2 separate regions of the Homo sapiens genome follow, and region 1 is linked to region 2. Evidence: fine-mapped QTL for protein levels in blood plasma. Region 2 holds a variant in brackets. A gene starts in the other region. All regions are shown on their reverse strands.

Evidence for each region. PIP is the chance, under the fine-mapping model, that this variant and not a neighbour inherited with it causes the effect. Protein levels are from antibody-based Olink assays in UK Biobank. Linkage for the fine-mapping came from a reference panel and not from the study's own genotypes, which makes the PIPs less certain.
Region 1: it holds the start of CSF2, and the variant in region 2 is fine-mapped to the plasma level of the CSF2 protein (UK Biobank, PIP 0.94).

What each region holds. Positions count from the first base shown.
Region 1 is chr5:132,071,902-132,074,732 of GRCh38, reverse strand. CSF2 (colony stimulating factor 2) reads right to left here and starts at 944. Exons shown (of 4, transcript NM_000758.4): 1 at 751-944; 2 at 611-652. The coding sequence starts at 909.
Region 2 is chr19:8,675,574-8,678,482 of GRCh38, reverse strand. NFILZ (NFIL3 like basic leucine zipper) reads right to left here. Exons shown (of 6, transcript NM_001378600.1): 5 at 2,027-2,124; 6 at 1-1,732. The coding sequence starts at 1,717. The coding sequence ends at 848. Among named protein-coding and RNA genes, the nearest start is that of ACTL9, 22 kb to the left of the region's middle. The variant G/A (reference allele first, on the strand shown) is at 1,405.

The sequences.
Region 1 (2,831 bases), not on the chromosome of region 2:
GCTGCTGCCCCCAGCCCCCAGGAGTAGGGCTTGGGAGGGGCACAGGCTGGGTCCAGTCATAGACCCTGCCCTGTCCATGGCAGGCACGAACCTGCCCTTCTCACTGCCCCGCCCAGGCCACCCTCAGCGGCACCTGGAGAGGAGCCCAGCCTTAGGGAAGGAGGTGACTCTCACCCCATCATTCAGGGAGAGGGGGGTGGGGCCTCACCTGGACCTGCTGGGTGGGCAAGGGTTGTTCCTGAAACCCCTCTGTGCCTCTCTGTAGTCAGCACTGTCTCAACAGGACTTGGTCTCGGGGCACAGTGAGCGCCCCAAACCCACAGCTCCTGTCTCATGAAGTGACCCCCACTTTACCACCTGTCCCCTGGTGACTCCTGGCCATTGAATGCTAGGTCTGCCCATGGCCGCTCAGCTGATAAAGGAGCTCATGTGACTGCCATAGGGGCACGGCCAGCAGCCTCTTGAGCACCCAGTTGCTACCCCCTCCTCCTGCAGCCAGCTGACTGGAGAGAAAGTGGACAACCCTGTGTGGTGCCATCTAAAATGGAGTCCCCACCTCCACCCCAGGGCAGGGGCTTCTGGAAAGCTATGTCAGAGAGAAGCATCTTACCTGGAGGTCAAACATTTCTGAGATGACTTCTACTGTTTCATTCTGTAGAAAAGGAAAATGTCATGTTATCAAGCTGACAGGCGTGGCCAGTCAGGGGCCAGCTGGGTGGCCTAGGCACAGGCCCACATTCTCTCACTTACCATCTCAGCAGCAGTGTCTCTACTCAGGTTCAGGAGACGCCGGGCCTCCTGGATGGCATTCACATGCTCCCAGGGCTGCGTGCTGGGGCTGGGCGAGCGGGCGGGTGCAGAGATGCTGCAGGCCACAGTGCCCAAGAGCAGCAGGCTCTGCAGCCACATCCTCCAGAGAACTTTAGCCTTTCTCTCTGTGTACTGGGCTCACTGGCAAAAGAGCTCTTAAATACACAGAGGAAATGATTAATGGTGACCACAAAATGCCAGGGAGGCGGGGGAACTACCTGAACTGTGGAATCTCCTGGCCCTTATCAGCCACACATGGGAACGGTGAGCCTTTTCCCTAGGTGGTCAGGCTTGGGGGTTTTCATTAATGAACCTTTCCAAGAACCGACAGCCCACCCACCCGCCTTCCTGAGGGCTCTCCAGCCCTCCCTGGGCAGTCTGAATGGGCCTGAGGCTGCCCCCTCCCTCTGAGGGGCACAGTTTGGACTTCCTGGCCTGGAATGGCTGGGGTGGGGCGTGGGAGACACTTAGATAGGGCTCCCCATCCTGCCTGTAATCCCAGGGGCCTTTGGGCAGGCTATGCCCGCCCTGGTGCCTCATTCTGACTCCAGCCTTCCTCTTCTCTGGCCACTGTGAGAGACTTGAGTGTGAGGGGAGCTCTCACAGACCTGCCCCACTGACAGTTCACATGGGCTCCCACCCAGGACCTGGAGCAGGGGGCAACCTCAGTCCAGTAAGGGGGGACCCCTGCCCCTGTGAGCAGAGGGAATGACCACCATGTGCACATCCAGCAGCGAGACTGCAGCCACTCTCAGCAAGCTTCAGAGGGGGTGTGGCTGGGTCAAGTCGGGACCCAGAGTCTGACTCTTGGCTCTGGAGCCACCTTCCTGAGTGACTCCCCTCTCTGGTTATGTGAACCTTGATTCCCTCTGCAGAGCAGGTTTGCCCCTCTGAGGTTCGGACTACACTCCTATATGTAGCCCCCAGAAGACACCAGGAGCTTCAGGCTGGCTCCAGGGCTGTGGCTGCATCCATCTCAGGTACAGGGACAATGGCTTCCCCAGCAAGGCCCTCCAGGCTTAATTTCCTACATAACCCCAGCATCCCCCAACTCCAGAGGCCTTTCTGTGGAAGTGTGGAAGTAGGAAATCTAAAGGCTCTTGAGGGGCTGACAAGTGTTTGATTTTCACAATGGAGTTCAGAGAAGACAGCACGAGTTTGTGTTTGCACAAGGTATCTGGCTCAAGCTGCCCCATGCCTGGGTTTCATAGCTAAAGGGGTGTGGGCCCACACGTGCCCATTTCTGGGTGTATGTGTGCTGCTGTGATTGGTTGTACATACAGGTGCCTGGTAGAGGGGAGGATGTTTTCCATGCAGATGCATCTATTGAGTCCTCTTACCTGCTTTATGAAAGGCTCCAGGCCTCTGAAGGTGACTCTGATACTGGAGAAGCTCCCTACTCCAGGTGCAGTGCCTCTGGGCCCTAGAGGCTGATTCAGCCTAAACCAGTGGGGTTGGACACAAGCGAGAACATTCTGCTGGACTCAGGTTGGCGAGCCTTCAGAGAGCAGGTGGAGTTCATGGCTTTAGCACTGTGGTCTGAGTCTGCAGCCCTGGCCAGTTTCCCTGTACTGTGGGAGTTTTTCTGACCTTGCATAGAGAAACCAAACCTTAGTCCTCCAGACCCCACTGTGAGGCCAGCCCCATCCATCTGAGCCTGCGTAGAACACTCCTAGTGGCCAGGCTGGGGTGGGAACATGAAATGTCCAGGCCCTGGCCCTTTCTCCACCTTTTTTGCAAGGCCTTGGCTCAGCTCTTTCCAGGGAGCTCTCGGGGGAGAGATGAGGACATGGATACTACATGTAGATATCACATGTGTTGGATAGCACCCTGGAGGCTGGAGGGCAGGGAAGGGAGCCATAGATAGTGGTTCAGCTGATGGCCAGGGAGGCAGAGAGCCTGTATGACCCATCTGGGAGAGAAGGTCACTTTCCTCCTAGAAATGAGTTGTCATAGCTCAGACAGTCAGTCAACAAGTCTTTCCAATCCACACCAGGACCTGTTCTGGGGAGGTAAACGGG
Region 2 (2,909 bases):
AGAAAGAATGGGTGGATGGATGGATAGGTGAGGATGGGTGGATGAGTGGATGAGGATGGATGGATGCATGCATAGATAGGTGGATGGGTGGATGAATGAATGGATGGATGGATAGATAGAAGGAAAAACAAATGCATGGATGAATGAGAATGGATGGCTAGATAGAAAGAAGGAAGAACAAATGCATGGATGAATGAGAATAGATGCATGGATAAATGGAGGATGGATAAATGGACAGATGGATGGCTGAATGGATGGACGGATGGATGAATGGATGGATGGATAGATGGACGGATGGATGGATGGATGGATGGATGGATGGATGGATGGACGGACAAGTGGATGAATGGATGGAGGGATGGATGGATGGATGGATGGATGGATGGATGGAATGGATGGATGGATTGATGGATGGATGAATAGATGGGTGGATGGATGGATGGATGGATGGATAGATGGATAAGGATGGAGGGACTAATGGATGGATGGATAAGGATTGATGAATGAATGAATGGATGAATAAATGAGGATGAATGGATGAATGGATGGCTATAGGGAAGAATAGATAAATGGAAAGGAGGAAGGAAGAGGGAAAAGTGACAACCCAAAGCATAGATTTTAAGGCAAGGCAAGAGCCATGGTAGAATCCAAGATGGGCTCCCATCCACTCCACCCCTAGGAGGTCTGGTATGGAAGCTGTGAAGTGGACCTTCCAAGCCAGGGCACCCCTACTTCCTACAGGCCTTCCCAGATTGCTGATCAAGACCAAGCTACTCATCCCTCAGACAAACCTATATTCCGCCCCCAAACACCCCCTTGCAAGCCTAGCCCTTCCCAGAGGAAGCCCTCAGAGGGGCGCCTGACCACCCTCCCAGCCACGAGGTACCCTGCCTGAGGCTCGGGACTTGATGCGCAGTTTGTGGGGCAGAGAGGGCTGACCCAGACCCTCAGGACTGTTCCCTGGGGCAGGGCAGGTCACCCCAGGAGACAGACCCATGGGATCAGCAGTGGGTGTCAGCAACACATCTGATGGCCCTGAAGCCCGGCATCCAGAGGGCACTGGTGACCACAGCCCCCAGCAGGGTCTGAGCTCTGGTCTGGACCCTACATGCCCCTCCAAGAGGTGACAGCTGAAGAGGGCAGGTGGGAGGGCAGTCTGCAAGGCCATGTCAATTCTGTTGAGGGTAGGAGATGCAGACTCTTGGGGGGACCTAGGAGAAGTGGCCAAGCCAGTCCATCTGGGAGCCAGCAGGCAGCCCCGACATCCTGGAATCCCAGCATCCAGGGAACGTGGCCTTAAGAGGCAGCTGTGAGAGCCAGACAAGGATGAGAGTGCTTCAGCCCCAGGCCGGGGGTCCCCAGTCCAGGGGGCTTCCAATAGCAGAGCCTGCAGGGGCAAGGCCC[G/A]GGGCCCACCAGTCAGGGGCAGGAGGCCAAAGCGAAGCTTGAGCGCCTTCAGCTCACCCTTGAGCAGGGCATTCTCCTCCATCAGTGCAGCCAGCCTGCCCTCAATGGCTGCATCATTGAGACGTCGCTTTTCCCTGGATCTCTTGGCTGCTTCATTGTTCTTCCTCCGCTTCTCCCAGTAAACTGTGTCCTTCTTTTCTTCTGGCATGAACTCCCGCTGGCGACGTATGGAGGGGCCCCTGCCCCGAGCCCCCCACAAGGTCTTGCTATGACTCTGAGACACATCTGGCAGGCCCGAGAAACCCACATCCATAGCTGCTTGGAGAACCTGGGAAAAAGGAAAGAGTTCTTGGAGTAATGGCAAAGGGTGGACCTGGATGACCCCTTTCTCTAATTTATCCTTTGTCTCCACCATCACCCATGGAGGGGACAGGTGGAGTTGGAACTGAGCTGGAGACCAAGGTTCGATCTTCATCTGTTTGATGCCCAGTGAAGATTGGGTGAGGCCACAAAACAAGAAACTGCTAGAAAGGCTTAAGAGCAGACCACCGTCATCATGAAGAGCTGGTTCAACCCTGTACCCTCAGAAGGACACATGCTCTTCCAGGGGTGTTCTCCTTACTGTTGAGAAGGTCAGCAGACAAGCCCAGGGCTCAGTTCAATTGGAGTTCCAAGGTAAGATTCTTGGAAACCCAGAGGGAGACAGAAGGATGACTGAACCTAGAAATAGAGAATATGTATCCATGGAGGTAAACAGAGCCAATTTGGGATCAGAAAATAAGCTGCTATTCACCTAAACTGTGCCCAGATTGTACCCCAAGATCGCTTCAGTTTGTGGCCAGAATTTTTTACCTGCCCTTCCATCCATCCAACTACCCACCCATTCATCGGGTAATCCAATCACTCACCCATTCACTCAACTGTCCATTTGTCCATCCCTCTACCCAACTCACCATCTATCCATTTATCCATTCATTCACTCACTCACCATCCATTCACTCAAACCCATCTCCCCATTTCATTGTGCAACTCTCCATCACATCTACCACTTACTCACTCATCCATTCATCCAACCGTCCATTGATTCACTGAGAGATTCATTTTTTTTAAATCACATTGTGCCTTTACTAGGCATCTTTTCATCCATATATTCATTTGCTGATCTCAACCATCCACCATCTATTCCTCCATTCTTTCATTCATCCAAATGTCCCTCCTATGTGTCAGTCACTCTTCTACAAATCCATTCATTCATCTATATATTCATCCATGGGTCCATCCATTCATCCAACCAACAAAAAAGCAATTTTTTTAGAGGCATGGTCTGACTGTCACCCAAGCTGGAGTGCATTGATGGGATCATAGTTCACTGCAGCCTTGAACTGTTGGGCTCAGGCAATCATCATGCCTCAGCTTCCCAAGTAGCTGGGACTACACTTGTATGCCATTATGCTCAGCTATTTTTAAATTTTCTGTAGGAACATGGTCTCACTTTGTTGCCCAGG